Linked DNA regions of Homo sapiens. The protein of the gene in region 2 purifies or fractionates together with the protein of the main gene of each other region. This does not show direct contact. Each region holds a gene or a part of one and is shown on either strand. Other genes may lie near its edges.

Evidence for each region.
Region 1: the proteins of HSCB (region 2) and CPSF3 purify together in Homo sapiens (affinity purification with mass spectrometry; one large-scale study listed by BioGRID and IntAct). This does not show direct contact.
Region 3: the proteins of HSCB (region 2) and QSOX2 purify together in Homo sapiens (affinity purification with mass spectrometry; one large-scale study listed by BioGRID and IntAct). This does not show direct contact.
Region 4: the proteins of HSCB (region 2) and FUCA2 purify together in Homo sapiens (affinity purification with mass spectrometry; one large-scale study listed by BioGRID and IntAct). This does not show direct contact.
Region 5: the proteins of HSCB (region 2) and PKN2 purify together in Homo sapiens (affinity purification with mass spectrometry; one large-scale study listed by BioGRID and IntAct). This does not show direct contact.
Region 6: the proteins of HSCB (region 2) and ARG2 purify together in Homo sapiens (affinity purification with mass spectrometry; one large-scale study listed by BioGRID and IntAct). This does not show direct contact.
Region 7: the proteins of HSCB (region 2) and GRPEL1 purify together in Homo sapiens (affinity purification with mass spectrometry; 2 studies listed by BioGRID and IntAct, with this or other methods). This does not show direct contact.

The regions. Positions count from the first base shown.
Region 1 is NC_000002.12:9,440,180-9,444,667, reverse strand, and holds part of CPSF3 (cleavage and polyadenylation specificity factor subunit 3), read right to left. Parts: intron 4,178-4,488; coding exon 4,002-4,177; intron 2,851-4,001; coding exon 2,692-2,850; intron 1,154-2,691; coding exon 1,007-1,153; intron 1-1,006. UniProt on the Homo sapiens protein: Component of the cleavage and polyadenylation specificity factor (CPSF) complex that plays a key role in pre-mRNA 3'-end formation, recognizing the AAUAAA signal sequence and interacting with poly(A) polymerase and other factors to bring about cleavage and poly(A) addition.
Region 2 is NC_000022.11:28,748,539-28,752,038, reverse strand, and holds part of HSCB (iron-sulfur cluster co-chaperone protein HscB isoform 1 precursor), read right to left. Parts: intron 799-3,500; coding exon 751-798; intron 1-750.
Region 3 is NC_000009.12:136,224,783-136,229,270, reverse strand, and holds part of QSOX2 (sulfhydryl oxidase 2 precursor), read left to right. Parts: intron 1-2,396; coding exon 2,397-2,497; intron 2,498-4,361; coding exon 4,362-4,410; intron 4,411-4,488. UniProt on the Homo sapiens protein: Catalyzes the oxidation of sulfhydryl groups in peptide and protein thiols to disulfides with the reduction of oxygen to hydrogen peroxide. May contribute to disulfide bond formation in a variety of secreted proteins.
Region 4 is NC_000006.12:143,497,717-143,502,204, forward strand, and holds part of FUCA2 (plasma alpha-L-fucosidase precursor), read right to left. Parts: intron 4,407-4,488; coding exon 4,216-4,406; intron 1-4,215. UniProt on the Homo sapiens protein: Alpha-L-fucosidase is responsible for hydrolyzing the alpha-1,6-linked fucose joined to the reducing-end N-acetylglucosamine of the carbohydrate moieties of glycoproteins.
Region 5 is NC_000001.11:88,690,348-88,694,835, reverse strand, and holds part of PKN2 (serine/threonine-protein kinase N2), read right to left. Parts: intron 3,113-4,488; exon of another isoform or gene 3,056-3,112; intron 1-3,055. UniProt on the Homo sapiens protein: PKC-related serine/threonine-protein kinase and Rho/Rac effector protein that participates in specific signal transduction responses in the cell.
Region 6 is NC_000014.9:67,622,474-67,626,961, reverse strand, and holds part of ARG2 (arginase-2, mitochondrial precursor), read right to left. Parts: intron 1,096-4,488; exon of another isoform or gene 1-1,095. UniProt on the Homo sapiens protein: May play a role in the regulation of extra-urea cycle arginine metabolism and also in down-regulation of nitric oxide synthesis. Extrahepatic arginase functions to regulate L-arginine bioavailability to nitric oxid synthase (NOS).
Region 7 is NC_000004.12:7,061,730-7,065,064, reverse strand, and holds part of GRPEL1 (grpE protein homolog 1, mitochondrial precursor), read left to right. Parts: exon of another isoform or gene 1-182; intron 183-841; coding exon 842-1,004; intron 1,005-2,598; coding exon 2,599-2,680; intron 2,681-3,335. UniProt on the Homo sapiens protein: Essential component of the PAM complex, a complex required for the translocation of transit peptide-containing proteins from the inner membrane into the mitochondrial matrix in an ATP-dependent manner.

The DNA.
Region 1 (4,488 bases), on a different chromosome or scaffold from region 2:
AAACAAACCAAAAAACACCCCAAACAACAAGCAAACAAACAAAACTAACAAAAGGCCATTTCTCCTGCTTTCCAATACATTTGGAAAGGGCACGTCATCTATTTTCTATGGACACATGCTTCATTAGTGTTCTTCTAATTAAAAATACACACTTTTTTCAGCTTACCCCTCCTTTCCAATTCCATCAAAATATCTAACTTATTTTTAATAAGTTACACGATACTTAAAAATATAAGTAAGTCGGCCGGGTGCAGTGGCTCGCGCCTGTAATCCCAGCACTTTGGGAGGCCGAGGCGGGTGTATCATGAAGTCAGGAGTTCAAGACCAGCCCGGCCAAGACGGTGAAACCCCATCTCTACTAAAAATACAAAAATTAGCCGGGTGTGGTGGTGGGCACCTGTAATCCCAGTTACTCAGGAGGCTGAAGCAGAGAGCTGCTTGAACCCGGGAGGCGGAGTTGCAGTCAGCCTGGGTGACAGAGCAAGACTCCGCCTCAAAAAAAAAAAAAATATATATATATATATATAATATATATATTAAGCATTTACTATGTGCCAGGCACCATATTAAGTGCTTTAGATATGTTCTTTCACTTCATCCTTACAATAACCTTATGAGCTATTATTCCTATTTACAAATGAGGTACAGAGAGGTTAAGTAACTTGCCAAGGGTTACATAGTAAGTAAGAGATGGAGCTGGCATTCCAAATGAGCAGTCATACTCCAAGCCTGGCTCTTAAATTATTGGAGAGGCAGCAGAAAATAACAGAAAAACATTAGGATTGGGGTTGGTAGGTCTGAGTCAGTCAGTTCTGGAGAAAGGGGGCAGCTTGCTGAAATCAAAGGGGAGTTGTAAAGGCCAAATCCGAGTGCATGTGAAAGGCTCTGCTCAGGGGGTGTCGCATTAGTAGGTGATGATGCCTGCTTTGTGAACTGCCTGCTGCACAGTTTCCTGGGTATGCACTTTTTTTCCCTTTAATACAATAAATGAAATTCATAGACTAACCACATGAGGCGGTTTCAAAGCACGAATAAATTCACTGGTTTGCTGGTAATCCGTGTGAGCTGAGAAAGAAATGTAATCAACAGACATTTTCAGTGGTAACTTCTGTCCAGACATAGTAGTGATTTCTTCAGGTTCAGACATGATGTGCTGTGGAAAATAAAGAAAAATAACAAAACAAACTACCCAGTTATAATCGTAAAGGTACATTTTCATTTTTTTCATGCAGTCATAAATTCATGTTAAATTTAGGACCTTACGCACAAAATCATTCTAATATAACTGACTCAGTAAATATCAAATACTCATGTTCTCAATCAAGCAAACATTTAATGAGAAAAGTAAACAAATTAACTAAAACTCATCTATCTGGAGTGCTGGCAGTGAGAATCATAACTCTTATGCTTAGAAAGACAAACCTGTATTCCCAACTATTCTTGTGCTCTCCAAAGTCATTTCCTAGATATGTGGATATATTTCTATTCTGAAAATCTTTGTTTTTTCAAATAGGGTCTCACTTTGTCACCCAGGCTGAAATGCAGTGTGCGATCTCAGCTCACTGCAGCCTCGACCTCCTGGGTTCAAGCAAGCCTCCTGCCTCAGTCCCCCAACTAGCTAGGACTACAGGCACGTGCCACCACACCTGGCTAATTTTTGTATTTTTTGTAGAGATGGGATTTCTCCATGTTGCCCAAGCTGGTCCCCAACTCCTGAGCTCAAGTGATCCACCTGCTGTGGCCTCCTGAAGTGCTAGGATTACAGATGTGAGGCACTGTGCCAGGCCTGGAAATTTTTTTTTTCTTTTTTTTTTGGAGATGGAGTCTTGCTCCGTCACCCAGATTGGAGTGCAGTGGCGCCAATCTCGGCTGACTGCAACCTCCGCCTCCAGTTTCAAGCAATTCTCCCTGCCTCAGCCTCCCGAGTAGCTGGGATTACAGGCATACGCCACCACGCCCAGCTAATTTTTTGTATTTTTAGTAGAGACGGGGTTTCGCCATGTTGGCCAGGCTGGTCTCGAACTCCTGACCTCAGGTGATCCGCCCGCCTTGGCCTCCCAAAGTACTGGGATTACAGGTGTGAGCCACTGCACCCAGCCTGGAAATCTATTTTAAATACAACATTGTCACTAAAGAACTTTATAGAATAAGGTAAAGTAATAAAGATTATCAAAGAATCATATCATATTTTTAAAAATAAAATAGAGGATGAGAATGTGATGCCTGGATGCTCAGAAACTGCCTCCCAAGTTCTGCATATATTTTCTACAATTTCTACATCCCTAAGAGCTGAAAATCAATGTTTCATAATAGTAGAAAGTGGTCAACCCAAACACATTCTACAGCTTTTTAAGATCATATGTATTAGTCAACCTCTTCTTCATGAGAGGACGGAGAGTATTCACGTGTTTGTCTCAAACAGGTTCCTGTCCATTCTTCTCTACTTGCAACCAGATGAGCATTTCTCAAACTTTAATGTGTATATCAATCACCTGGGACCTCATTATGCCATTCAGTGTCTGCATAATTCTACATCCTACGCACATCTCTAGCTACCTATTCCCGTCCTCATTTTTAAAAATCAAAACTTGTATTATTTGAAGAACTACTTCAGTGCAAAAACCTGTGAGGACCGTGCCACCTCCGTGATTCTGAATAGGAATAACACAACAGCCTATGACTGTAACTGACCTTGGCAAGTGTCCCTTCTACACAGTATCCCGCTATAATGACACCATTCCTCTTATCAGTACACCAGCTTTCAAATAATTCTCTGGATAAGCCACTTTGCATCATGCCTGGGGAGGCCATTACAACACTGGGACCAATGTCATCAAAATGATCCATGCTCTAAGAGAGAAAACAGAATGGGAAAAGTATGTTAGCTACCAGCAGCTGACAAAGCATTCTTTCTTTTTAAAGAATAACAAAAGGCTAAGAGATTAATCACATCACTGAAAGAGCCTTCACAAGATCTGTAAACATTTTAAGTTCAGTTGCCAAATTCCTAAACAGTTTAGGCTAGGAATGGTAGAAAAACCAAGTAATAAAAAGCGGTAAGTTCACCCCGATCTTCAAAACCTTCTGTTGGTAGCTAGAGGGCCATCAGAACCATCAGGACCATCTTCAGCGCCTAGCAGGCAGGCAGAAAAGTAAAAGGAAGAGTCAAATGGGTCTTGATCTACCCAAGACACAACTCTGAAAAAATATTCCCAAAGACTCACAATAGCTTTGCATGCTCCATGCATGTTTTGAGCTGGCCTGGAAATCAAAAGGTTTAACATTGTTCTAGGGAGAACTTGTCTACAATCCTTAAGCAGTTAACTTAAAATAAATACTTTATGAACAAAGCCTATTTACAACTGGAAGTCCACTTTTAAATTATTTCGGATATCAATTATTTTATTATGATTCAAGCATCGAGTTAAACAGTATTTTTTAAATTAAATAAAATCAGATTTTATTGAATGCTTCCAGAAAAGTATATAAAAATTTTCATATATAGAATTTGCAGCACTAATCAAAAAGATGATTTGGTTTGAGTGAGAAGAGAAACTTAAATACATAATACAAAATATTTTTCTCCTCAGAACTTTTTATGCCTACGGCAAAAGAGATGAGTATTATAAATACTGAGAACACATGGCTACTTGGGGCAAGTGGCAAAATCTGTTGAAGCAGAAAAAGAATGTCAGCTGCTGAAGTTTTGATTTTCTGCAGAAAAACGACACCTGTTGAGAAGCGGTAAGACTCCAGCAAGAGGAATTCAGCCAGAGTCACTGACAAGCACTGCCTACGATTTTTATTTTATTTTGATAGAGACAGGGTCTCACTATCTTGCCCAGGCCGGTCTCAAACTCCTGAGTTCTAGTGATCCTCCTGCCTTAGACTCCCAAAGTGCTAAATTACAGCTGTGAGCCATCACTCACGGCCTCGTACCTCCTACTACTAATGACTGATTTGGTTTTATCCATCCTTGTCTTTCTTCCACAAGCACTCACCTTGAGGTTACTAATGTGTTTGAAAACAAAGGGATTATTGATGTTGATCTGTTTGCGGATTTTGTCATTCATGGCATTTACATATGTCTGGTACACTGCCATACACTTCTTGGCCAAAGATGATGCATAGTATATTGGAATGTCATGTAGTTCTGGGTGATTCTGCCAGTACTCATCTAGAGAGATTTTGCAAGAAACAAACATCACTTTGTTAGATGGGGTAAACAGTTCAAATAACAAATGATACACACAGAACAAGAAATGATACACATACAACCAAGAAATAAAGCACACAACTATATTTTAAAGAGTTTAAGCAAAATTATCCTGGTTGTAACTAACTTAAATTTACAAAACCAAAACTTATTTCTAAATAGTGCATGACCTAAAAAGAATGCTATGATCATAGTCCAAAGATGTGGAGGCTTTTAAACATGACTCAGTATAAGTTTACACTGAAGTCTATAACTTACTACCATAATAAGAC
Region 2 (3,500 bases):
GCTCACTGCAACCTCAGCCTCCCTGGTTCAAGCAATTCTCCTGGCCTCAGCCTCTTGAGTAGCTGGGACTGTAGGCACATGCCACCACACTCAGTTAATTTTTGTATTTTTAGTAGAGCTGGAGTTTCACCATGTTGGCCAGGCTGGTCTCAAACCCCTAACCTCAAGTGATCTGCCCACCTCACCCTCCCAAAGTGTTGGGATAACAGGCGTGAGTCACTGTTCCCAGATCACTTTTTTGATATAGTTTGTTTCTCTAGAAAGGCAGAAATGTTGATTTTTTTTTTTTTTTTGAGATGGAGTCTCGCTCTGTCACTCAGGCTGGCGTGCAGTGGCACGATCTCAGCTCACTCCAACTTCCGCCTCCCTGGTTCAAGCGATTCTCCTGCCTCAGCCTCCCAAGTAGCTGGGACTACAGGCGTTGTGCCACCACACCCAGTTAATTTTGTATTTTTAGTAGAGACAGAGTTTCACCGTGTTAGCCAGGATGGTCTCAATCTCCTGACTTCGTGATCCGCCCGCCTTAGCCTCCCAGTGTTGGGATTACAGGCATTAGCCACCGTGCCTGGCCAGAAATGTAGATTCTTAAAGGCATTTTTTTAAAGACAGAAATGTAGACTCATAAGTATTTCATATCTCCCTATATAGCTATCATAGGAAGGTATATAATAGCTAGTTATTGAATGAATGGCTATGCTTCAGTGCTTGAAATTTCTTTCCATATTTAAGAAAGTGAAGAAAAGAAAGTACCTTGTTCAAAAGCACTGCTCACATTGTCAGTAAATTCTTTCTGTTTAGCTGAAAAAGAAAACCATTCTGTTAATTTTTCCATTGAAATAGACTCATAATATGAAGACAATACTTAAACTTTGTAATCATGCTGGTTTGAACACAACAAAGGAGGAAGTTTGTATTCAAGGGTAAGGCTTCATAACCTTTGTCTCTGTGTGTACCATGATGGCAGCTGCTGTTTAGCACAACTCTGGTTTACCCTAATAACACTGTTTTTCCAACCATGAAAGGTCTAAGGAGCAATCACCAAGGCTTATAAAATGGCTATAGAATCAGTAAAAAAAAAAAAAAAAAAAAAAAAGACAAAGATATACTTTGATTATCTCCACGAAACAGTTTGGGTCTTCGACATTTCAGCAAGGAGAACATTAACATGCTGGGAACACCTATCAGTAAAGCATTACTGAGTGTTTCCGGCAACCACTTGCAAACTGTATAGCCTCTCAGGAAAATGAAAACATTTACATCATGTTGTGTCATAAGGGAGAAGATGCCAAACAAAATAAAGCAGCAGCTATCTCATATTTCTCGTTTCCTTGTTAGAAAATGAGGAATTTTCCAGTAATCTCATTTTCCAGATATAAATAGTGTCAGTTATTTATATGGTGTCGTCTTTCGAAGCACTGTCAAATACATTATATCCGTAAGGCAGGAAATGACAGGTATTGGGGGAATTGTCCCATGGGTGATGAGTGGAAGAGCTGGGAACAGAATCCAAGTCACTTGACTCCCAGTCCGGTGTTTGAAACTCATCTCTCAGGTAGCAGTGTGGTGTCCACAAAAGAACAACAGACTAGGAACCTGGAGGTTCTTAAGCCCTGACCCTAAAATTAACTAGCTCTATGCCCTTGAACATTAATTTTACCTGGGCCATAGCAGATACCTTACAGGAGAAAATTTAGGAATTAATCTAAATTAAGGTCAGTGAGCTGCTCAAAGTCAAATGTTTACTATAGGGCTAGAATAAGTGTTTTTTTTTTTTTTTTTTTTTTTTTTTTTGAGACAGTTTCGCTCTTGTTGCCCAGGCTGTAGTGCAATGGTGCGATCTCGGCTCACTGCAACCTCCACCTCCTGAGTTCAAGCAATTCTCCTGCCTCAGCCTCTGAAGTTGCTGGGATTATAGGTGTGTGCCACCATGCCCGGCTAATTTTGTATTTTTAGTAGAGACAGGGTTTTGCCATGTTGGTCAGGGTGGTCTTGAACTCCTGACCTCAGGTAATCTGCCCATCTCAGCCTCCCAAAGTAATGGGATTATAGGCATAAGACACCAAACCTGGCCTAGAATACATGCTTTTACGTGCTTTATCTCATTTAACTTGATCCCCACAACCACCAGTACTAATATTATCTCCACGTACAGATGAGGAAATTGAGGCTCAGAGGAATGAAGTCATTTGTTCAAGGTCACGCAAAGTCAGTAGCACGCTGCCCTCACTCCAGATCTTCATGCTGCCCTGACGTCTAAAATTGGGCAGCTGAGCCCACTGACTGCAACTCCTGAGTTTCTCTTATCCCTACAACCCAGTCCTAATGCTGTGAACATATCTCCAAGCTGACGGTCCCCTCACCACAAATTCTATATTACTGCTTTAAACATCTTTTCTCATTACTGTTTGCTCATTTAGTAAATACCAAGTTCCTTTTAAACTATAAGTACTTTTCTGTGAGCTGAGGATGTGAGGGAAGCAAAAAGTAGACATGATTTCTCCTGCAGAACTTCCAGTCTAATGAGGGAGGCTGATATTGATCAATTAATGTCACATAGAACAGTAAAGTTATAACTGTGATTAGTCCTACAAAAGAAATAGCCACTACTAATAGATAGCTTAAAAAGGCTTCTCTGAGGAAGTGATGATTGCCTTCAGATCTGAAGAAGGAGGGGTTAACTTAAATGGGGCGGAGGAGAGGAGGGTTTCAGGCAGAAGCAACAGGCCCTAGGGTAGGAGGGTGCCCAGTATAGATGAGGAACTGGAAGTGGTCATTGTGGCTGGAGTGGAGAAGGCAAAACAGAGAGAAGCAGAGGCCACGGCATCCGGGCCCTGTAAGGGATGCTAAAGAGTTTTAGAGCAGTGAGAAGCCACTTAAAAGTTTTTTTTTTTTTTCTTTGAGACGTGTTTTCGCTCTGTTGCTGAAACTGGAGTGCAATGGTGCAAACACGGTTCACTGCAGTCTCCACCTCCTGGGCTCAAGTGATCCTTCTGCTTCAGCCTCTCGAGTAGCAGGGACTACAGGCATGCGCCACCACATCTGGTTAATTTTTAAATTTTTAATGGAGATGGGGGTCTTGCTATGTTGACTAGGCTAGTCTTGAACTCCTGGGCTCAAGTGATCCTTCCACTTCAGCCTCCCAAAGTGCTTGGATTACAGGCGTAAGCCATCACACCTGGTCAATTGAAATAAGGCCAAGAGTAGTGATTAGATTTGGGTTTTGGCCGGGCTTGGTGGCTCACACCTGTAATCCCAGCACTTTGGGAGGCTGAGATGGATGGATCACCTGAGGTCAGGAGTTTGAGACCAGCCTGGGCAACATGGTAAAACCCCGTCACTACTTAAAAAAAATAGAAAAATTAGCCAAGCATGGTGGCACGCACCTGTAGTCCCAGCTACTTGGGAGGCAGAGGCAGGAGAATAGCTGGAACCTGGGAGGCGGAGGTTGCAGTGAGCCGAGATCATGCCAGTGCACTCCAGCCTGGGCAACAGAGCAAGAC
Region 3 (4,488 bases), on a different chromosome or scaffold from region 2:
TTCCTCAGTTCCATGTGGTCTGAGGCTTGGGCAAGGAGTGGCCGGGGATGCAGAGAGCTCGTGTCGCTTCTCCCTCATCCACTGAAAGTGGCCTCAAAACCTGAATTGGTTTCACTTAGCCAGCGTAAGCGGGAACGGTATTTGGTCATTGTTTCTGAAAGAGGTTTCTTTCTTTTTTATTTTTAAATTACAGGGAGAAAAGGCCAGTATCTGAAACAGAGCTGTGGTATATTATGTAGAAAAATAGCAATCTGAACCGCTAACACACACAAGCCTTCATATTTGTACAGAGTCTGGTGATATGTTCCGTCTCTTCCAGGCATGCTTTTAACAGAACCTCTGGAGTTTGAGATCATAGCTCGCTCTCAGAAAAGACTCTTACTCTTTTTACATGATTTATAGTGGAATCATTGATTTAGACAAGTGGGCAGAATCGGAATACAAGGCAAAAAAGAGCCTCATCAGTATCTCAGTGACAGGCAGACATAACGTTCCCTCCCGTTCAGAAATCACTGGGCTTCCGGTCACAAGGCTGTGCCAGGGCAGCACCCCACGTGGCTGGCTCCATTCCTCCAGGCAGGTCCATTTGCTGGGTGCCTGGGTCTCGCCTCTGCACCTGCCTCTCCCACGGTGCGGCGTGCCCTGCCACACTGCCGACTCTGCTGAGGCCTCCAGGCTCCAGGATAGCCAGCACCCATCCCTTGACCCAGTGGTGCCCCTTTAGGCTGTCCCCTCAAAGTCTCAGGGCCTGGAAGGACCCCTACAGAGTGAGGAGCCAGGAAATATTTGTGAATTGTTGGCAGTGCAATTTTTACATCCCAGAGGAAGAACACAAATCTTTTAAAAAGAAAACCTCACTGGTCAGCTTCGGAAACCATGACTTTGATACTGGTGACTGAAGCACGAGCCAGGCACTCCCCTTCCTCATGTGAGTCATTCCGCTGGGTTGCAGTGAGGGCAGGTCTCTCTTTACAGAATTGTCCCAGCTCATCATGAGCAAACGGTGAGAGATGACACGTCACCATTTCACTGCAGCCCTGGTGCATTAATGCATTTAGGTCGTGATCACTAAGGAGAGAGGCGTCGCTTGCCTCTGGGTGGAAGCATGTTCCACTACCTACAAAGTAATGTCACCAAACAAATCAGACAAGAATCTAGATCTGAGTGCCCTGTTACAGAAATGCCAGGAGTCCGGGATGTTGTCAGTCAAACCCAGAGAAGGAAAGTGCCAGGACCCACCAGCAGTAACCAACAAGCCTCGCTGGGATCTTGATTCAAACAAACTTTAAACGAACAAATAGGGACTTTTTTTTTTTCTTAAGGTGGAGCCTCCCCCTGTCGCCGGCTCACTGCAGCCTGTGCCTTCCGGGCTCAAGCGGTCCTCCCACCTCAGCCTCTCCAGTAGCTGGGACCGCAGGTGTGCGCCACCAACGCCCAGCTAATTTTTTGTATTTTTTTTTTAGAGACAGGGTTTTACCATGTTGCCCAGGCTGGTCTCAAACTCCTGGGCTTAAACGATCTGCCCACCTCGGCCTCCCAAAGTGCTGGGATTCCAGGCATGAGCCACCATGCCCAGTGGAGAGCCTTCATCTTTCAGAGGCAAAGCCTGGTGGGTTTTGTGTAGAAATGACGTGCTGAGATTTGTTGTGGGACAGTTCTGAAAGTGGGTGGAGACTTTGGCAAAACAGGATTCACCTTGAGCTGATAATTATTGATCCAAGAGGTAGAATGTGTGGGATTTGTTACATTTTTATCTCTATTTTATTTGCATGTTAGAAATTTTCCATAGCAAAAACTTTAGAGATAGGAACAAAAAAATTTATGGTTCCTTTTAGCCTCCCCAAAATGGCATAGGTGTTCCAGGGTTTGCGGGCAGTGTCTGGGATGGTGTTGGAAACCACTTCACATGTGTCTGTGCACGCATCCTTGCCTTGAAAGACCCTGCTCAGATGCTGCCAGTACTCGCTGGAGTGAGAACACGGGAATGTTTTTGCCAAACAGCCTGGACCGTATCTGATTAATCTGCACGTACTTGCTTGCTGTCCTGACTTAAGTGCCGGCCGCTGACAGCCGCGTCTGTTACCAGCGCTTTCATCCATCAGGGTGTCATTTAATTAGGGGCCCACAGCCTTGTCCCTGCTCCGTGATGTGCAGGTTCAGCACAAATCCGCTTGTTCTGTGACTATCTGTGGTAGGAGAGGCATCGTGCTGTTGGTGGAGTTCTCTCTCCTAGCTCCACATAGACGCTCTGTGTGATGAGGGCCTAACTGATGACCTAGAGGGGGCAGGTGGGCTGGTCTCGCAGGTGGCCGCAGCCTGGAGTGGGGACTGCTGGGTCCTGGGCTTCCCGGGAGTCCAGTGCTCACCACACTGAAGGTCATGCTCCTGCTTTTCAGACTGGGCCAGTGCCATTCGCGTCGCAGCTCTGGACTGCATGGAAGAGAAGAACCAGGCCGTGTGCCATGACTACGACATCCACTTCTACCCCACCTTCCGGGTGAGTATCACGCGGCTGCTTGTCCGTTGAAATTCACCTTCTACCCCACCTTCCAGGTGAGCATCACGCGGCTGCTTGTCTGTTGAAATTCGCCACATCATAGTGCCTGTGTTTTCGGCTTCTCTGGCTCTCTCCTTGGAACTTCGTAGGAATTGTAGGAGCTGATGTTTGGTGGGGGCAGCTCTTGTTCCACCCTGTTGTGCTGTGGAAGTGTCTGTGGGACTGTCCACGCTCACACAGACCCGGTCACATGGAGGGGATGCGTGAAAAGACCCCCTGCAGCCTGCACGGCCAGGGGGCGCAAGGAGACCAGGACTGCGAGGGCTGGCACCCCAGCCTGAAGCCACGCGTGTGGTCCGTGTACCATGGGGCTCTCACACATGCACACTCATGCACACACACACGCACACACAGGCACAGGGCCTCTGCCTTCCCCAGCCAAAGTCAGCCCTGCAGACAAGGCTGTGCCCATTGCTCCCACTAGGGGGCGGAGGTACCTGTGACCCTGTTGCAGGCCCGTGCATAGCATGTGTGTACCTGCGGGTGCCACTGCCTCCTGCGTGCCTTGACATGGACATCTCCAGAAACGTGGGCGCCTTGGGCCCACTTCCTGGGAAGCTTTGTCAATTTGAGTAAAACTCCGTCCTTGTCAGCCCTGGTGCCTTGCTGTGTGGTGTGGTGTCATGTCATGGTGGCTTCGCTTGTATTTTGGGGGCTGTTGTTTTCACTGTGCTGGCAGCACCTGTGGTCCTGCCCTAACAGGTGCCACGCTGGGCGGCACCGGTGTCAGCCCTGCCCCAGGGCCTCTCGGGGCCTGTGTCGCACACTTGCTTGCCTGCCTCTGCGTGTGATTACGTCAGCATGGCTTCCTGTTGTATTTTGATTTTGCTTCAGACACAGTTCACACTGTGCTGTATGTAAACTTTCGGGCCCTCTTTCTGTTACTTAATGGGACATTGCCCAGATCCACTACGATGCTCATTGGATGGGATTGTCCAGTGACGTCACTCTGAGAACCAGAGCCCCCCGTTGCCAGGTGTGTGGGCTCTTCCAGGCTTTGGTGGCTTTGAACGGCGCTGCTGTGCGCCTTCCCGGGCAAGGGGAGAGCTGAGGCTGGGAGAGAAGCCACTGGGCCGCGAACCGGGTCTGTGCACAACAGACCTGCAGGGCCAGCAGTGTCAGGCAGTTTTGTGCTCGCCCAGGGACCAGTGCAGCAGGAAGCACTGGCGGCTTCGTTTGCATTTCCCTGGCGGCTGCAGTGCCAGCACATCTGGCTTTGTGGGCCGTGGGTGTCATGGGTGAAGTGTCTTCCTGTCATCTGCACGTTTCCCTCTTAGCTGGCCAGTGCTTTTCTTACCGACCTCATCTCCGCCATCATGTAACCTTGTCTCGTCGCTGTCTCTAACGTACCCTTTGATGAAGAAAGTTTTTAATGTTAACATAAGAACCTAATCATCCACTCAGAGATACTGCGTGGTGTCTCCTCCTCCTGCACATCCTCCGTGTTGTCACAGCTAACGCTACAGCTAACCATTAAGACATAGGCTCACTACCAAGTCCCAGAGAGCGGTGTCTTTTATGATTCCAGCCCAGTTGAACTGTCTTGCTTCTAGCCCTGTTGGGTCAGAAAATGTAAATGATGGGAATGCTGATTGGAGCTAACCTTAGCCCCCTCGTAAATCTGACAGGAAACATTAATATGCACAAAGACAAGGAGAAGCGTGTGGTTTGTCATTAATTTATGAAAACTTTCCGAAGGAAATTGAGTAAAGCTCCCTCTAAGGTGACGGGCGTTTTGTTGCTTAAACACATGCAGATGCCCATGGAAGGCTGCCTCTTACTTGTTCTGTGTTTTTCCTCTTAGTATTTTAAAGCATTTACAAAGGAGTTTACAACTGGAGAAAATTTTAAAGGTAAGGACATAAGCATTGTATTTTAGTCCCTGAGATTCCCCTCATAAACCTGCTAAAGACACACGGTCCCAGAGCCTG
Region 4 (4,488 bases), on a different chromosome or scaffold from region 2:
GCATTCCTCTTCATCAGACTGCTCTCATGGAGCTGAAAAGGGGAGGGAGATGATCTAAGGGGACAGGATGCAAGAGCTTCATGGCTTTTCATGTATTATTCAAATTTTTATATTCATTCATTCATTCAACAAGACAAGATATGCATGTGTCAATTCTGTGCCTAGTACTGTGCTCAGTGTTAGAGTTACAATAAAAAACAAAACACACATAGTCCTTGTTCTTATGGAGCTTAGACTAGAGTGGGGAAAGCAGACACTAAACAATCACACAAATAATATGAAAGTGTGAGTTCTGATAAGCACCATGAAAGAAAAGGAAATTGAGAGATTATAACAAAAGGATCTCTTTAGATTAGAACATCAGAAAGAAGCCTCTCCAGGAACATAACATTTAATCTGAGACTTAAAGGATGAATGGGAGCAAAGAAGAAGGTAAGGGAAGTATGCTGTGGACAAAAAAAAAAGTGGATTTCATTCATTTATTCATTCAATTACTCAAGAAATACTTATTGAAATCTTAAAATGCTAGACACTGTTTTAGAGCTATATACAACATTGAACAAAGTCCTTGTCCTCATGGGGCTTACATTCTAGTGGAAGAAATTAGAATCAACAAATATGTCAGGTGTTGATTAAATGCTATGGAGAAAACAAGCCAGGTTAGAAGGACAGGGCATGCTAGGTAGGAAAGGAGGGGCCTGGGAGTGTTATTTTAAACAGAATAGTCAGGGAAGACTTCTTAGAGGTGGCATGGAAGAGAACCATGGGAGCGCCATAAGAGCACCACGGGAGCGTCTGGGGAAAACCTTCCAGACAGAATGACAAGTGCAGGAGCCCCAGTGCAAGAGTGTGCTCTGCCTGTTGATGCACTAGCAAGGCAGAGTGCCTGAAGGAGAGGAAGTGGGGGAGGGTGATGGCAGATAAGATCAGAGAGGCGATAGGAGCCAGATTTTATAGGCCCTTGTAAGCATCTATGGGACCTGGCCTTCTCTCTGAGACTGGAAGCCATTGGAGAAATGTGACCATGGGAGTGGCATTATTATTTAAAAGTATACTCTGATTGCTTTGTGGTGAATAGGTTAAAGGGTAGAAATAGAGACCTATTAAGAAGCTACTGAAATAATCCAGGCAGGGGCGAGACAATGGAAACTAAAAGGATGAGGGTTGCCACAGAGAGGATAAGAAGTGGACAGATTCTGAATATATTTCAAAGATGCAGAGGATGATATCTGCTAATGGGTTGGCTGTGACTATAAAAGAAGGGGAAACTAAGGGCTTCAAGGTTTTGGGCTTGACAACCACCTAAAGGATGAAGCTGCCGTTAACTGAGATGGGAAAGACCATGGGTGGAGCTAGTTGATAGCAAAATTTTAAAACTCAGGATTTCAGTTTTGGATGTACAGGTCTAAGATGCTATGCATCTAAGTGGAAATGCTGAGTAGGAAGTTATTGAGGCTGGAGTTCGGAAAGAGGTCTGCACTGGAAATAGAAATGTGGAGATCATCAATATGGCATTTAAAGCCATGAAAATGGATAAGATCACCTGGGACATTAAGATAAACGCAGTGGCTCACGCCTGTAATCCCAGCACTTTGGGAGGCCAAGGCAAGCGGGTCACCTGAGGTCAGGAGTTCGAGACCAGCCTGGCCAAACATGGTGAAACCCCATCTCTACTAAAAATACAAAAAAATTAGCCAGGCTTGGTGGCGGACACCTGTAATCCCAGCTACTCAGGAGGCTGAGGCAGGAGAATCACTTGAACCTGGGAGGTGGAGGTTGCCGTGAGCCAAGATCGCACCAGTGCACTCAAAAAAAGATAGAGAAGAATGGAAGTCCAAAGACTAAACCTCAGGGCACTTCAAGATTTAGAGGTTGGAAAAATGAGATGAAATCAGCAAAGGAACTAACTAAGAAGGAAGAGCCAAAAGGTACGACAAACACCAGGAGAGACAGTGATAAACTGAGGCAGACACTGCCAGTAAGTTAAGAAAATGAGCACTGGGGACTCATCACTGGAACTGGCAAGGCAGATGTTATTGTGGGCCTTGAGAAGAGCAATTCTGGAGTGTGGGGGTGGAAGCTCGACCAGAGGGGGTTCAAGAGAAAAACTGTAGCAAGGAATTAGAGATAGCAAGTGAAAACAATCCTTTCAAGACGTTTTACTACAAAGGAAAGGAGAGAAATGGGAAGATCACTAGAAATGCAAGTGAAATTGAGTTAAAGGGGAGAATTGCTATAACAATCCTTGGGTGGATGATTTGCAATGGGATCAGGACACAAGGGTTGACCTTAAAGCCAAAAGTGAGATAATTTTACATTGTATGTGTCTGGGTGCGTGTGTGTGTGTGTGTGTTTCCATAGTTAACAGTTAGCTGTCCAGAAGCAGGCATGGAATAAGTAGATCTGTATTTAAAGTTGATGTTCCGTCAAGTGAGTATGGCAGAGGGAGCAAGGGTTCAGGAGTTGGGTGTATGCAATAGATTAGTTACAGTGATGGGCCACAGAATCTGTCCCGGATAAGGAAAAAGACAGAGAAAAGATGATAGGATTAAAAGATAGTATGATCACTGGATTATAGATCCCTTTGGAAGCCGAAGTGCCATGCAGAGTGAGCCAAAATATAAGAAGTGGTAGGTAGATGGCAGAATCCTTCAAACTGGAGCCGTGGAAGGGGTTCAGTTATTGGTAATGCAAAGTCTAAAGTATGTTTATAAAAGAAAGGGAAGTTAAGGACACCAAGGTTTTTGGCCTGACAACCACCTAAAGGATAAAGCTGCCATTAACTGAGATGGAGAAGACCGTGGGTGGAGCTAGTCTACAGCAAAAATTTAAAACTCAGGGCTTCAGTTGTGGACGTACAGGTCTAAGATGCTATGCATCCAAGTGGAAGTGTTGAGTAAGAAGTTCGACTTTGCATTACCAATATGACCTTGTATATTGATAATGCAAAGGAACAGGTAACAAAGGTCAAGCGGACAAGACCCCTAGAAGACAGGAGGTGCAGGTAATTAGAACTGTGAATAAAAATTTAAATCTCTAAGAATTATGTGAAGAGTAGTTCTGGGGACAGGGACAGCAAGCCAGGGCTCTCTCAAAGGATTTTAAGGGTTGACCTGGGAGTCTGTAGGTGACTGCAAGAAGGTGGGCATGATGAACCCTGGGGGAAGAAGGCTCCTATGGTGAGGAGGGAGAGCAGGACCACTCAGTGGCAGGGAAGTTGGTAGGAGCCAGACTCACAGTTTTATAAGCCACATTAAATATTTAGCTTTTATGTTTATTTCTTGAAATAAACACAATAGAATAATGGTTAATGATTGTGAAGTCCCAGATCAGATACCCTCATATTCAAATGTAAGTATTCAAAAGTAAGAAGCAAATTCCAAAACCAGATTTCTACTATTCTCTGTCACATGAGAGATTGGTATTGAGTTCTCATTATGGCTTCTCCCAGATCAACATTTTAAAATTCCACAATTATTTGCTCTGTCCAGATTGCCTTACTCCATTTTATTCAATGGGTTGTTAATGTTTTAAGTCATAAGTCAAGTAGATTGAAGAACAATTAGTCTAATCTTTCGGTTCCTATTTGATCAGACAGTACTCAGGTGGCAACTGAAAGCGAATTTTTAGAACTTCACCAATACTCATCTTATTTTATATATGTTAAGAAACCATATCAGAAACTGTCATATTTGTGGAGTCTGATTCGGGTACTCATTGACACACAGAACCTCCTCAAGCTCAGAGAGAAGCATCTTCCCTGAACCCTCCCTATTTTGATTCATTTTTAATCTAACATTTTCTCTGCCATTGGGTACCTCTTGTTTGCTAATTTCATGGGATGCAACATCTGCAAAAGTCAGAATTTACCGAACTGGTTAAACAGTAATCTCCGTTTTAGACTAACCATTCAGCATTTTTCATTGGTCTGAACAGCTTACAATTTTTCTAAGAGCTGAGTACTTTCAGCCAAAATTTGTCCACTACTGGGAGATACCTAGAAATGATGTAAGCTCAATCTGATAAACAATAAATGTTTCAAAACATGCAAATTCTTCCCCTTCTCTTTATATTAGAGTAAGCAAAGTTTGGAAAGTGCTTTGTATATGTAGGAATTCATCCAATTTCTCTTTTTATCCTACTCTTCTTTATATGTCTGATAAATTTTAAATCTCTTCCTTTATAAAAGAGTACTTGGTAACAAGAATGACTTACCACACATCTGGGGTGACAGTGTCATTCTGGGATCGCCAGGTATGGGTTTCATAAATAGCTTCTCCATTGACTTTTAGCCAGGACCCCATTTGCCTCAGTCGCTCCTCAAAAACTACAGAAATGGTGCCATCTAGTGTGGGCCCAATATTCATCAAAAGATTTCCTCCACATGAAACTGTCTCTACAAGTTGCTAAAAAATTAAGAATAATGTTTTTAGATAAATAAAATAATTCCATCTTTAATGTGCTAATATGTTGCATTTATATATTTAT
Region 5 (4,488 bases), on a different chromosome or scaffold from region 2:
TAAATAAACAGAAATGAGATACCATGATACACTTATTAGAATGACCAAAATCCAGAAAACTGACAACACCAAATACTGGAGATGGTGTGGAACAACAAAAACTCTTATTGTTGGTAGGAATACAAAATAGTTCGGGCACTCTGGAGGGCAGTTTGGGAGTTTCTTACAAATCTAAATATATTCTTACCATACAATTGGACACCCTGGTATTTAACCAAAGGAGTTGAAAAGTTGCATCCACACAAAAACTTGCATAGGATGTCTATAGCATTTTATTCATAACTGCCAAAACAGAAGCAACCAAGATGTCCTTCAGTAGGTGAATGAATAAACTAAGGTACATACAGACAATGGGATATTATTCAGTACTAAAAAGAAATAAGCTATCAAGCTATGAAAAGACATGGAGGAAAATTAAATGCTTATTTCTAAGTGAAAGAAACCCATGTAAAATGGCTACACACTGTATGATTCCAACCGCATGAGATTTTCCCAAACGCACAACTATGGAAACTGTAAAAAGATCAGTGGTTGCCAGGGGATGGAGGAGAGGGAAGGATGAATAGGTAGAACACAGAGAATAAGCTTAGTGCAGGGACACTATTCTGTATACTATAATGCTGGATACATGTCATTATACATTTGTACAAACCCATAGAATGCACAACACCAAGATGTGTGCACTCTGGGCTCTGGATGATGATGATGTGTCAATATAGGTTCATCAACTGCAACAAATGTACTCTTGTGGAGGATGTCGATAATGCATATGTACATATGTAGGGACGCAGTTATTTGAGAAATCTCTAGACCTTCCTCTCGATTTTGCTGTGGACCTAAAACTGCTTTAAAATATGAAGTCTATTAAAAAACAACAAATCCAGATAAACTGACTTAAATCTAAAAAATAAAACTGCAAGATTCTTAGGAGCAAACTTGGGTAGCTATCTTTTAAACCCAGGATAGGGAATAATTTATTTAAAAGGGCATGAAAAGCAATTACAGTAAGTCCTCACTTAACACTGCTGATAGGTTCTTGGAACTGAGACTTTAAGAAAAACAATGTGCTTCAGGTCCTTTAATAATGCTGTTTCGCTCAATATCATTTCTTTTCTTTCTTTTTTTGAGACAGGGTCTCACTATGCTGCCCAGGTTAGAGTGCAATGACACGATTCCAGCTCACTGCAGCCTTAACTCTTGGGCTCAAGTCATTCTCTCACCTCCACCTCCAAAGTAGCTGGGACTACAGGTGTGCATCACCACTTCTGGCTAATGTTTCATTGTTTATAATATCATTTCCTTAGAACACTGATGAGAAAAAAGAAACTGGTTTCATTATAAGTTATTTTGCTTAAAGTCAGTTTCCAAGAACCCGTCAATGACATTAAGTGAGGACTTACTGTATGATAAACAATGGACAAATTTGACTTAAGAATTTTTTTTATCAAAAGATGCACAGCAATGACAAAAACTGTATTTAGGATTCCGAGTTTGTAAACTTCTGAACTAGTAAACTGTTCAGAAGATTAATATTTTGCTTTATATCCAGTATTAAATCTGATCAACTCCAGCATTTTAATGGCAAGCTATGAAAATACCTAAATAACTGACTCACATAATCTTACGGAATATACTGCCCTTTAAACAAAAGAATAAAATATTATTAATGACTAATAATAAGTAGTTTGCAACAGAGAGGTATGGAATTGGAAAATAAGCAACTGATGAAGTGTATGTATAATTTTTGCTATTTCTTTGCTTCTGAATTTACTCATTAACTAAATCAACCTAGCATTTGGGTGCCTAGCATGTGTGAAGCAATACAATATTTTATACAACTTCCTATGGCTGTTCATTTGGATAGTTTACAAATCCCCAGGCCATAAACTATTAATATAACTTTACCCTTTCTATACCAAATGTACAATAGATATTAAATACAAGCCTGTTGATGATAACGATGTAAATTATTCCAAATATTTGCCAAAGAAGGTAGAGGCATTTAAAACTGTCCCTCCCACACAACTCCATAAAAGAAAGCGAAAAAGTTAGGAACTGAAAGAAGACATTCACAATGTACACAGAGGATTAACATAAGCAATATAAAGAACTCTTATAAACTAGTAAGAAAAACAAAAATAGGCAAGAGACATAAATAGGAATTTCACTGAAGAAGCCACGTAAAAAGGCCGACAAACATAAAAAGAAGTGTTCTACATCAGTGATAACCAGGAAAATGCGCATCAAGACCACAATAAGGCAACATTTTACACCCTTATGATTTGTAAAACTTAAAAAGAGAATATCAAGTGTTGGAGAGGATGGATAACCAAAGGATCTTTTATTTCATATATTGCTAATATGAATATAAATTGGTGCAACCATATTGAAAGTTCTGCATCATCTCTTAAGTTGAACATTCACCTACCCTGTGAGGCAGCAATGCTACCTCTAGGTATATAATAGGAACTGTGGCACATGCACAGTAGGAAACATGCAGACTGTCCATAGGATCTTTGCTTATAATTACAAACAAAACAAAACAAAAAATGGAAAATAACTGCCCAACAAGGGAGAGTGGATAAATATCCAAATATCCACCAAAGTAGAGTTAATGAATATTTTACTCAATGAAATATTATATAGCAATTTAAATAATGACTATAGCAACATGCAAAAATGTGGATAAATCTTATTTATAACAGGTGAAAAATCAAGTTCAAAAAGATTATATTCACAATTCTATACAAACAACTAAAAGATGTTTAGATTTATATGTCCAACTAAACTATACACAGTAGTCTCCTTTTATCCACCGAGAGACCTTCAGTAAATGCCTAAAACCACGAACAGTACTAAACTCTATTTACACTTTTCCTTTAACATACATACTTATGCTAAAGTTTAATTTATAAATTAGGCACAGTAAGCAATTAACAATAACTAATAATAAAATAGAACAATTATAACTATACTGTAATTACAGTTATGAGTGTGGTTTCTCTCAAAGTATCTTAGTACTTATAAATATCTTATAGTACTATACTGTACTCACCTATTTTTGGACCACAGTTGACCATGGGTAACTGAAACCGTGGATAAGGAGGGACTACTATATAAGGAAGAGAATGAACACAGGACTCAAAAATGATGACCTAGATGACAAGAAGGTGGAAATAGACGGATAGAATAGAGGAAAACTATACGTAGGTTAAAGTTCCTAGCTTGTTTTGAGAGAGGGGGAGTGGTGGTCCATGAGTACTTATTAAAATGATTGACAGACAGATAGGTGATTAATCCAATGCAGTGTGCCTGATGTTTAACAAATTTTTTAAAAATCCAAAAGTTGCATAAAATTTGTTCAATGAAAATTCTGAAATGGAGAACAAACACCTCCTTAAAGAATCCCTAAGGTAGCAACTACAGGGAAGGGAAAACAGTATGATTAATGTGTAAAATATATGATACTCAGGCCAGGCACAGACGCTCACATCTGTAATCCTAGCACTTTGGGAGGCCAAGGCAGGTGGACTGCTTGAGTCCAGCAGTTCAAAACCAACCCGGGCAACATGGCAAAACCCCGTCTCTCCAAAAAAATATAAAAATCAACCATGCATGATGGCTCACACCTATAGTACCAGCTACTTGGGAGGCTGAGATGGGCGAATCACTTGAGCCCAGGAGGCAGAGGCTGCAGTGAGCCGAGATCACGTCACTGCACTTCAAGCTGGGTGACAGAACGAGATCCTGTCTCAAAAATAAAAATAAAAATAAAATAAATAAAAAACTCTCAGCACATGTATTGTGTGGTATGTCTTCTATAATCAAAAATAAATTCCAAATTTTGTCATAACTACATTCCATTAAATTAAGGTACTTATGAGCCAGGGCAGTAAAACTTTCACCAATTTGATAAGTCACTGACAAATTTCTAAAAGAGATAAATCCTAACAATATTATGTAAGTCTTGTATATCCACTCATCTTTATGAGGCACTTCAACACTACCTTCACATTTAAGGTGTTTACTGTCATCAAGTACACTGTCCCATGCTTTCTTGATCTTCATTTTTTACAGGCAATATTTATGTATATAATGTTACACAAATTTCATTTTTGTGATTGCAAAAAAAAACCAAGTATGATAATAGAGCTAGTTTCAAACAAGATTTCATCAGATAAAATTAAGACAAGCTAGACATGCATCAAGATAAAGATTCTCTATTTCTGTTTCATTAAGGAATTACTTTTTCATTAGTATATTTTTCCCACTCTAAATTTTAAATCTTTTTAAAGCTTTTAACTAGTTTTCAACTTTGCTGTCAAGTTTGAACTCTGCTGTATATCAAAAGTTGATCATATTAAATGTCATATACTGTAGAGTAAAATTGGCTTTTGAAATAATATAGACATTTGACAATTATCAGCACAGTATATTTTATGAGGGAATAATGTAGAATTAACTGTTTTATTCAAATACCATTTATGG
Region 6 (4,488 bases), on a different chromosome or scaffold from region 2:
CTGCCTTCTTTGACTTAGCATGTTTTCTAGGTTCATCCATGTTGTAGCATAAATTAGTACTTCATTCCATTTATGACTGAATAATACTCCATTATATGGATATGTCAAATTTTCCTCCCCTATTCAATTAATGTACATTTGAGTTTCCACATGTTGACCATTATGAATAATGCTATGAATATTTGTATATAAGTTTGTGTGTGGCCAGGTGCAATGGCTCATGCCTATAATCCTAGCACTTTGGGAGGCTGAGGCAGGTGGATCACTTGAGGCTAGGAGTTCGAGACCAACCTGGCCAACATGGCAAAATTAAAAATACAAAAGTTAGCTGGGCATGGTGGTGCTTGCCTGTGGTCCCAGGTACTCAGAAGGCTGAGGCCGAGATTGCACCACTGCACTCCAGCCTGGGTGAAAGAGCGAGACTGTCTAAAAAAAAAAGTTTGTGTGAATATATGTTTTGAATTCTGTTAGGTATATACATAGGAATGGATTTGCTTGAGGACACAGTAACTATACATTTAACTTTGAGGATCTGCCAAACTGTTTTCCAAAGTGGCTGCAGTTTTACATTCACACCAGTAGTGTATGACAGGTCGAATCTTTTTACACCCTCACCAATACTTGGTATTGTCTATCTTTTTTATCATAGCCATCCTAGTGGGTGTGAAATGGTATTTCATTGTAGTTTTGTGGTTTTTTTTTTCCCCTGAGACAGAGTCTCACTCTGTTGCCCAGGCTGGAGTGCAGTGGTACAATCTCTGCTCACTGCAACCTCCACCTCCTAGGTTCAAGTGATTCTCCCACCTCAGCCTCCTGAGTAGCTGGGACTACAGGAGTGTGCCACCACATCCGGCTAATTTTTGTATTTTTTAGTAGAGACGGAGTTTCACCATGTTGATCAGGCTGGTTTGAACTCCTGACCTGAAATGATCTGCCCGCCTCAGCCTCCCAAAGTACTGGGATTACAGGTGTAAGCCGCCACACCCGGCCATTGTAGTTTTAAATTTGCATTTCCGTAATGACTAATGTGTTTACTGCCCATTTGTATAACTTCTTTGGAGAAGTGGCTAATTAAATCTATTGCTAATTTTTAAATTTGGTTGTCTTTTTACGGTTGTTATTTTATTTATGTTTGCCGAACACTAGAATCTTATCAGGTATATGATTTGCAAATATTTTGCCAATTCTATGGGCAGTCTTTTTACCTTTTCTCTTTTTTTTTTTTGGTTTTTCATTACATTGATGAAGTCTTTCCAGTTTCTTTTTTTTTTTTTTTTTTTTGAGATGGAGTTTTGCTCTCGTTGCCCAGGCTGGACTGCAATGGCACAATCTCGGCTCATCACAACCTCCGCCTCCCAGGTTCAAGCAATTCTCCTGCCTCAGCCTCCCGAGTAGTTGGGATTACAGGCATGCACCACCATGCCCGGCTAATTTTTTTTTGTATTTTTAGTAGAGATGGGGTTTCTCCATGTTGAGGCTGGTCTCGAACTCCTGACCTCAGGTGATCCGCCTGCCTCAGCCTCCCAAAGTGCTGGGATTACAGGCGTGAGCCACCGTGCCTGGCCCCCACTTTCTTAATAGTGCTCTTTGAAACATAGATGTATTTAATTTAGCTAAGTCAAGTTTAATTTTTGTCACTTATGATTTTGATGGGATAGCTAAGAAACCAATACCTAACCCAAGGTCGCAAAAATCCAGTCCTATGTTCTCTAACAGTTATATGGTTTCAGCATTACATTTAGGACTTTGGTCCATTTTGAGTTAATTTTCATATATGGTGTGAGATAGGGATTTTTTTTTTTTTAATGTGGATATCCAGTTATCCCAGCACCATTTACTGAAGACTATTCTTTCCTTACTGACTTGTGTTGGTCAAATAAAGACAGCCTTGTGAATGGACAATTTTAGGAAACCATCAGACCAGTCAAATGACAATTTTCTGGGGATGGTCTATGAGGAGTATCACCTCTGTTCTCCCTTTTGCAGTAACTGCCAGCCTCCTGGTTTCACTGTGATTGCAGGCTATCGGTTGTCCAGGCTACAGCTGATCTGGGAAAAGGCAGCATGGGAACAGGGCAAGTTAAAATGCCACAATTCTTAATGTTCTTACTGAGATTCAATGTTTTTCTTGAATAAATGCTCCCCAGATTGCTGCAAGCCTTTGGTTAATTTCCAGAGTTCTGAAAAAGCTGATTCTGATCATTTTTGCCAATGTTCTTGATATGGTTTGGCTCTGTGTTCCCATCCAAATCTCATGTTGAATTTTAATCCCCAATGTTGGAGGTCTGGCCTGGTGGGAGGTGATTGGATCATGGGGGTTGTTCCTAATGGTTCAGCACCATCTCCCTAGTGCTGTCTCATGATAGAGTTCTCATGAGATCCGGTTAAAAGTGTGTATCACCTCCCTCTTCGCTGTCTTCCTCCTGCTCCTGCCATATAAGACGTGCTTGCTTCCCCTTCACCTTCCGCCATGATTATAATTCTCCTGGGGCCTCCCCAGAAGCAGAAGCCTGTATGTCCTGCAGAACCATGAGTCAATTAAACCTCTTTTCTTTTTAAATTACCCAGTCTCAGGTATGTCTTTACAAAAGTACAAGAACAGACTAATACAGTTCTCATTCCTTTTTTGGAGGTCCTATGCCACCATTTTCAATGGTGTCACTATACAGTATTTTAAAACAACACAGATTTCCCATTAAAGTGCAAATTTCTGGCTTTTCTTGAAAAACTGGAGAAAAGAGTACAAGGCCCACTCCTTCTCACATGGTAACAGGTGGCTAGAATTCACAAATTACCATGGTTCTCAGAGCTAACCAAAATCGAGTGCAGATATACTGCTCCTCAGCCTTGCCAGAGCAATGCCTTTTCATTTCTCTTAGGCCCTCTTAAGCCCAGGAGTTCGGGACCAGCCTGGGCAACATAGTGAGACCCCGGCTCTACAAAAGAAAAAAAAATTATCCAGGCATACTGGCATGTGTCTGTAGTCCCAGCTACTCAAGAGGCTAAAGTGGGAGGATCGCTTGAGTCCAGGAGGTTGAGATTGCAGTAGGCTGTGACTATGCCACTGCACTCCAGCCTGAGTGACAGAGTGAGACCCTCTCTCAAAGAAAAATAAAAGGTGGCTGGGAGCAGTGGCTCACTCTTGTAATCCCAGCACTTTGGGAGGCCTAGATGGGCAGATCACCTGAGGTCAGGAGTTCGAGATCAGCCTGGCCAACATGGTGAAACCCCATCTCTACTAAAAATACAAAAATTAGTCAGGCGCAGTGGCAGGCACCTGTAATCCCAGCTACTTTGGAGGTTGAGGCAGGAGAATTGCTTGAACCCGGGAGGCGGAGGTTGCAGTGAGCCAAGATCGCATCACTGTACTCCAGCCTGGTGACAGAGCGAGACTCCGTCTCAAAAAAAAAAAAAAAAAAAAAAAAAAGGTTACCTGAGAGTACTGTTGAGTGTCCTTACTAAGCCCAAGGAAATAAAACAAGCCCAGACACTAAGTCAAATACATTCATTCGAGAGAAAACAGGAAATTTAACTCATGCTATGGTAACACCGGCAGCCTGTGACATCAGAGCAAAGGCAAGGAACAAAGGGATTGTGAAAGTTACCTTTCCATGAGTCTCTCCTTTGAAATTTGATCCATGCTGTTTATTTGAAAGTGTTCAAAACACTCAAGTTATTTTGGTACTGTTTAGGAACAGAGCAACTGAAATGTCTCTTGGTACTTTTCTCCAATATATTCCAGGAGATTAGCCAAAACCACATGCTAGAAATCTGCTGAGAGCCACAGTTTTATTTAATAGGCTATGAGATTCTATTTCAGACTGCTGGTGATACTGAGCTACCAGTCAGCTACACAGTAAGGATATAATTGTACAATTAAATATATTTGAGAAAAAAAGTCAAAGGGAAGGCCATATAAACTGAAGCCTCACCATCACTTTAGGTTGGAGTTTAAAGAGGGAGTAATATTTACAGGAGAATGGCTTCCCCTGGGTTGGAGTGGAAAAATACCAAGAGCTGTGACAGGAAAGGAAGTCTACAAAGCATGAGTAAGAGAAGCTGCTACAAATGTGCCCTTCCCCCTCATTCAGCAGCCTCAGCTGATTGTTATAGAGGTCTCCTCCAGAAGAGGCTGAAACCGCTTCTTGTCAGGAATCTCTTAAGGCAGAACCTACAGACGGTAGAGCAATTTGAGCAATGCTTGGCCGAGTTCAGATGGACTGCAGAGATGTCTCCAGGATTTAAAAACAGTGATAACCAGAGATTGTCGTCTTCAGTGTAAAATGATTCTTTTAAAAAGGCAGTGTGTACAAGCTATTTTAAGAGACAGTATGCTCATTTATGGGCGGGAATAAAAACTTCCTCCCATTAGTTAACTTGCCACACATTAAAAGAAGACTAAATCTTAGCAGTTTGTCTTTAATCTTCAGTGGTGAACTTGGAGAGTTATTAAAATGACTAAGAGAGGCCTTAGTAAAGAAGAAACTG
Region 7 (3,335 bases), on a different chromosome or scaffold from region 2:
CCTTAGAATGGAAAGAGGAGGTTAGTACTGTTCTGTACCAAGTACTGTAACTTGGCACATTGACATGTAAGTTTAGGCATGTACTTACAGAAGATCTTATAAAAAAGACAGGCACAGTGGCTCATGCCTGTAATCCCAGCACTCTGGGAGGCTGAGGTGGGAGGAACACTTGAGCCCAGGAGTTCGGGGTTACAGTGAGTTATGATTGTGCCACCATACTGTAGCTTGGGTGACAGCGAAACCCTGTCTCTAAAAATACATGGAGAGGCCAGGCGCGGTGGCTCACGCCTGTAATCCTAGCACTTTGGGAGGCCAACGCGGGCAGATCACTTAAGGTCAGGATATCAAGACTAGCCTGGCCAACATAGTGAAACCCCATCGCTACTAAAAATACAAAAATTAGCCGGGTGTGGTGACGAGCAACTGGGGAGGTTGAGGTGGGAGTATCCCTTGAACCCACGAGACGGAGGTTGCACTGCACTTCAGTTTGGGTGACAGAGCAAGACTCTCTCTCTCAAAAAAAAAGAAATACATATAGATATAGATAGATGTATAGATAGATAGATATATAGAGAGAGACCAATCCTGTCTCTAAAAAAATATATATATGTTTATCTTAGATCTAATAAAGGCACATTGTATATGACTTACAGCTTTTATATTTACTAATATAGCTTCTATATGTCACGTACAGTGTGCCTTTATTAGATCTAACAGAAATGTTTTCTCCCCAAGTAATAGTAAATAGTTTGAAGCTATTTTAAGTTTCTAAAGTCATACATCTGACTTTAATAAGCACAAAAACTAAGTCTTCGTTTCTCACGTGTGGACTTCCCTGTAGGCCATCTCCCCGGTTGTTGTGCACAGCCACGAAACAAAAGAACAGTGGCCAGAACCTGGAAGAGGACATGGGTCAGAGTGAACAGAAGGCAGATCCTCCTGCTACAGAGAAGACCCTCCTGGAAGAGAAGGTCAAGTTGGAGGAACAGCTGAAGGAGACTGTGGTGAGGACTGTGAGGCTCCTGTGGGGGCGGGCTCGGCTGAACTGTTTCTCTCCTGGGCCACATAAAGGTTCCAGGTTTCATTGGTGACAGACTAAAGCCAGAGTTAAGCCGTTGTCCATGGCCTGCAGTGGGCCCAGGTGGCAAGTTACTGCCAAAGCAAAGACTAAAACCCAAATCCTGTGCAACTCTGGTTCTGGCAAGAGACTAATCTTTACACGCTGTTATTTGTCATTGAATGAAAACTTAAAATCATCTTTACAAATGAGGAATGCTCAGTATGGTTGTTTAGGCTGGGACTTAGGAGAGGAAGCAGAAAATTGCAAGTACAAGAGTTGGGAGCAGGAGTGTGGTTTTATGTGATGCTCTCATAGGCAGGTAGGAGTTTTATGAACTAGTAACATGGATTATTACTCCATGTGAAAACACATAGGTGGCACAAATCAAGTTCTTTAAGGATTTGAGAAAGACATCAAACCCTGAGTGCTGGCACCATTCCAAACCCGTTACATATGTTAATCCTGGCTGCCAGGTGCGGAGCCAGGGCTCGAACTAGAACCCCCTGGACTTGGAGCTCTTGCTCCTTGCCACTGTACAGTGATTACCTGAAGACTGAAAATGGATGCAGTATAGAGGCCCCCACAGAGCAACTTAGTAAATGTTAAAAAGAGAAAAGCTAGCTGGGCGCAGTGGCTTACCCCTCTGATAGCACTTTGGAAGGTTGAGGCAAGAGGATTGCTTGAGCCCAGGTGTTCAAGACCAGCCTGGGCAACATAGTGAGACTCCATCTCTAAAAAAAATTAAAAATTAGCTGGGCGTGGTGGTGCACTCCTGTAGTCCCAGCAACCCAGGAGGCTGAGGTGGGAGAATTGCTTGAGCCCAGGAGGTTGAGGCTGCAGTGAGCCGAGATTACACCACTTCAACCTGGATGATAGAGCAAGACCCTGTCTCAGAAAAAAAAAAAAAAGGCTCAGATGAGTGAGCTTACCGGAAGGTGGTGAGACATGAGGAATATACTAGAACTCAGATGATGATTACACAAGGAATGTTTGAACTGAGCCACCTCTGGGTAACACAGCATAGCAAAAGATCATGAGTGCAGCTTTTATTAAGCTTTCATTAAGCTGCCCTCCTTAGTCACATCTCAAAGGCAGTGATATTACTTCTGTTTTGACTTGTAGTTAGTTACACAGCCGTTTTCCAATCAAGCTCGCTTTCCTATGACTTTGTTCCATATTAATATAAATCTCCCGGCCAGGCATGGTGGCCCACACCTGTAATCCCAGCACTTTGGGAGGCCGAGGCGGTCGGATCACAAGGTCAGGAGATGGAGACCATCCTGGCTAACACGGTGAAACCCTATCTCTACTAAAAATACAAAAAAATTAGCTGGGCGTGGTGGCAGGCGCCTGTAGTCCCAGCTACTCGGGAGGCTGAGGCAGGAGAATGGCGTGAACCCAGGAGGCGGAGCTTGCAGTGAGCTGAGATCATGCCACTGCACTCCAGCCTGAGCGACATACAGAGCAAGATTCCGTCTCAAAAAAAAAGATATATATATATATATATATATATAAATATCCCTTTTTTTCTCTTTTAGGAAAAATATAAACGAGCTTTGGCAGACACTGAGAACTTACGGCAGAGGAGCCAGAAATTGGTGGAGGAGGCAAAATTATACGGTACTTTCAACATAACATGGTGTTGATTCCGGAAAGAAGATAATGGGGTGGGGAAGGGGAAGGCCATGCATACGGAAGTGTCAGAGAGCAAGGCTGTGGGGTGGGGGGTCCAGCTGTTGCATCCCCTGCATTTTTTTTTATGATGGCTCAACAGCAAAGGTGTCTGGAGGAGCAGAAATCAAGTAGCTGAGACTAGCATGAAGAATTGTAAATAGGTGTGTCCTCCCCCACGCAGAGACCTTGGTGGGAACCTGCAGCAGGTCAGCCTCTGATGCCCATCCCCTTAGCCCTCCGGAAGTAACACTGGCATCACTTCAGAACTCCCAGCATGCTATATGCATTGCCACCTTTGGATGTTTTTGTTACTGTCCTTCCCATTTTACAGTTGAGATCATTGAGGTTTAGTCACCTGCCACACATCACAAAGCTGGTACGTAACCCCAGGCTCCCAGCTCCACAGGCTGGTTGTTTGAGTGCTGGCTCTGGATCTCTGCGTGACTGACAGTGGGTATTAGAGATGTGGAACCTAAGGCTCGAGGGAGGGTAAATGGCCTTGCCTGGGTCAGACGGTGAGAGGCCACATGGAAACTAAGAGCTAGAGTCTCTGTCGCATTCACAGAGACTGAGGCGCTCATTGAAACACTTTTTTTCCTGG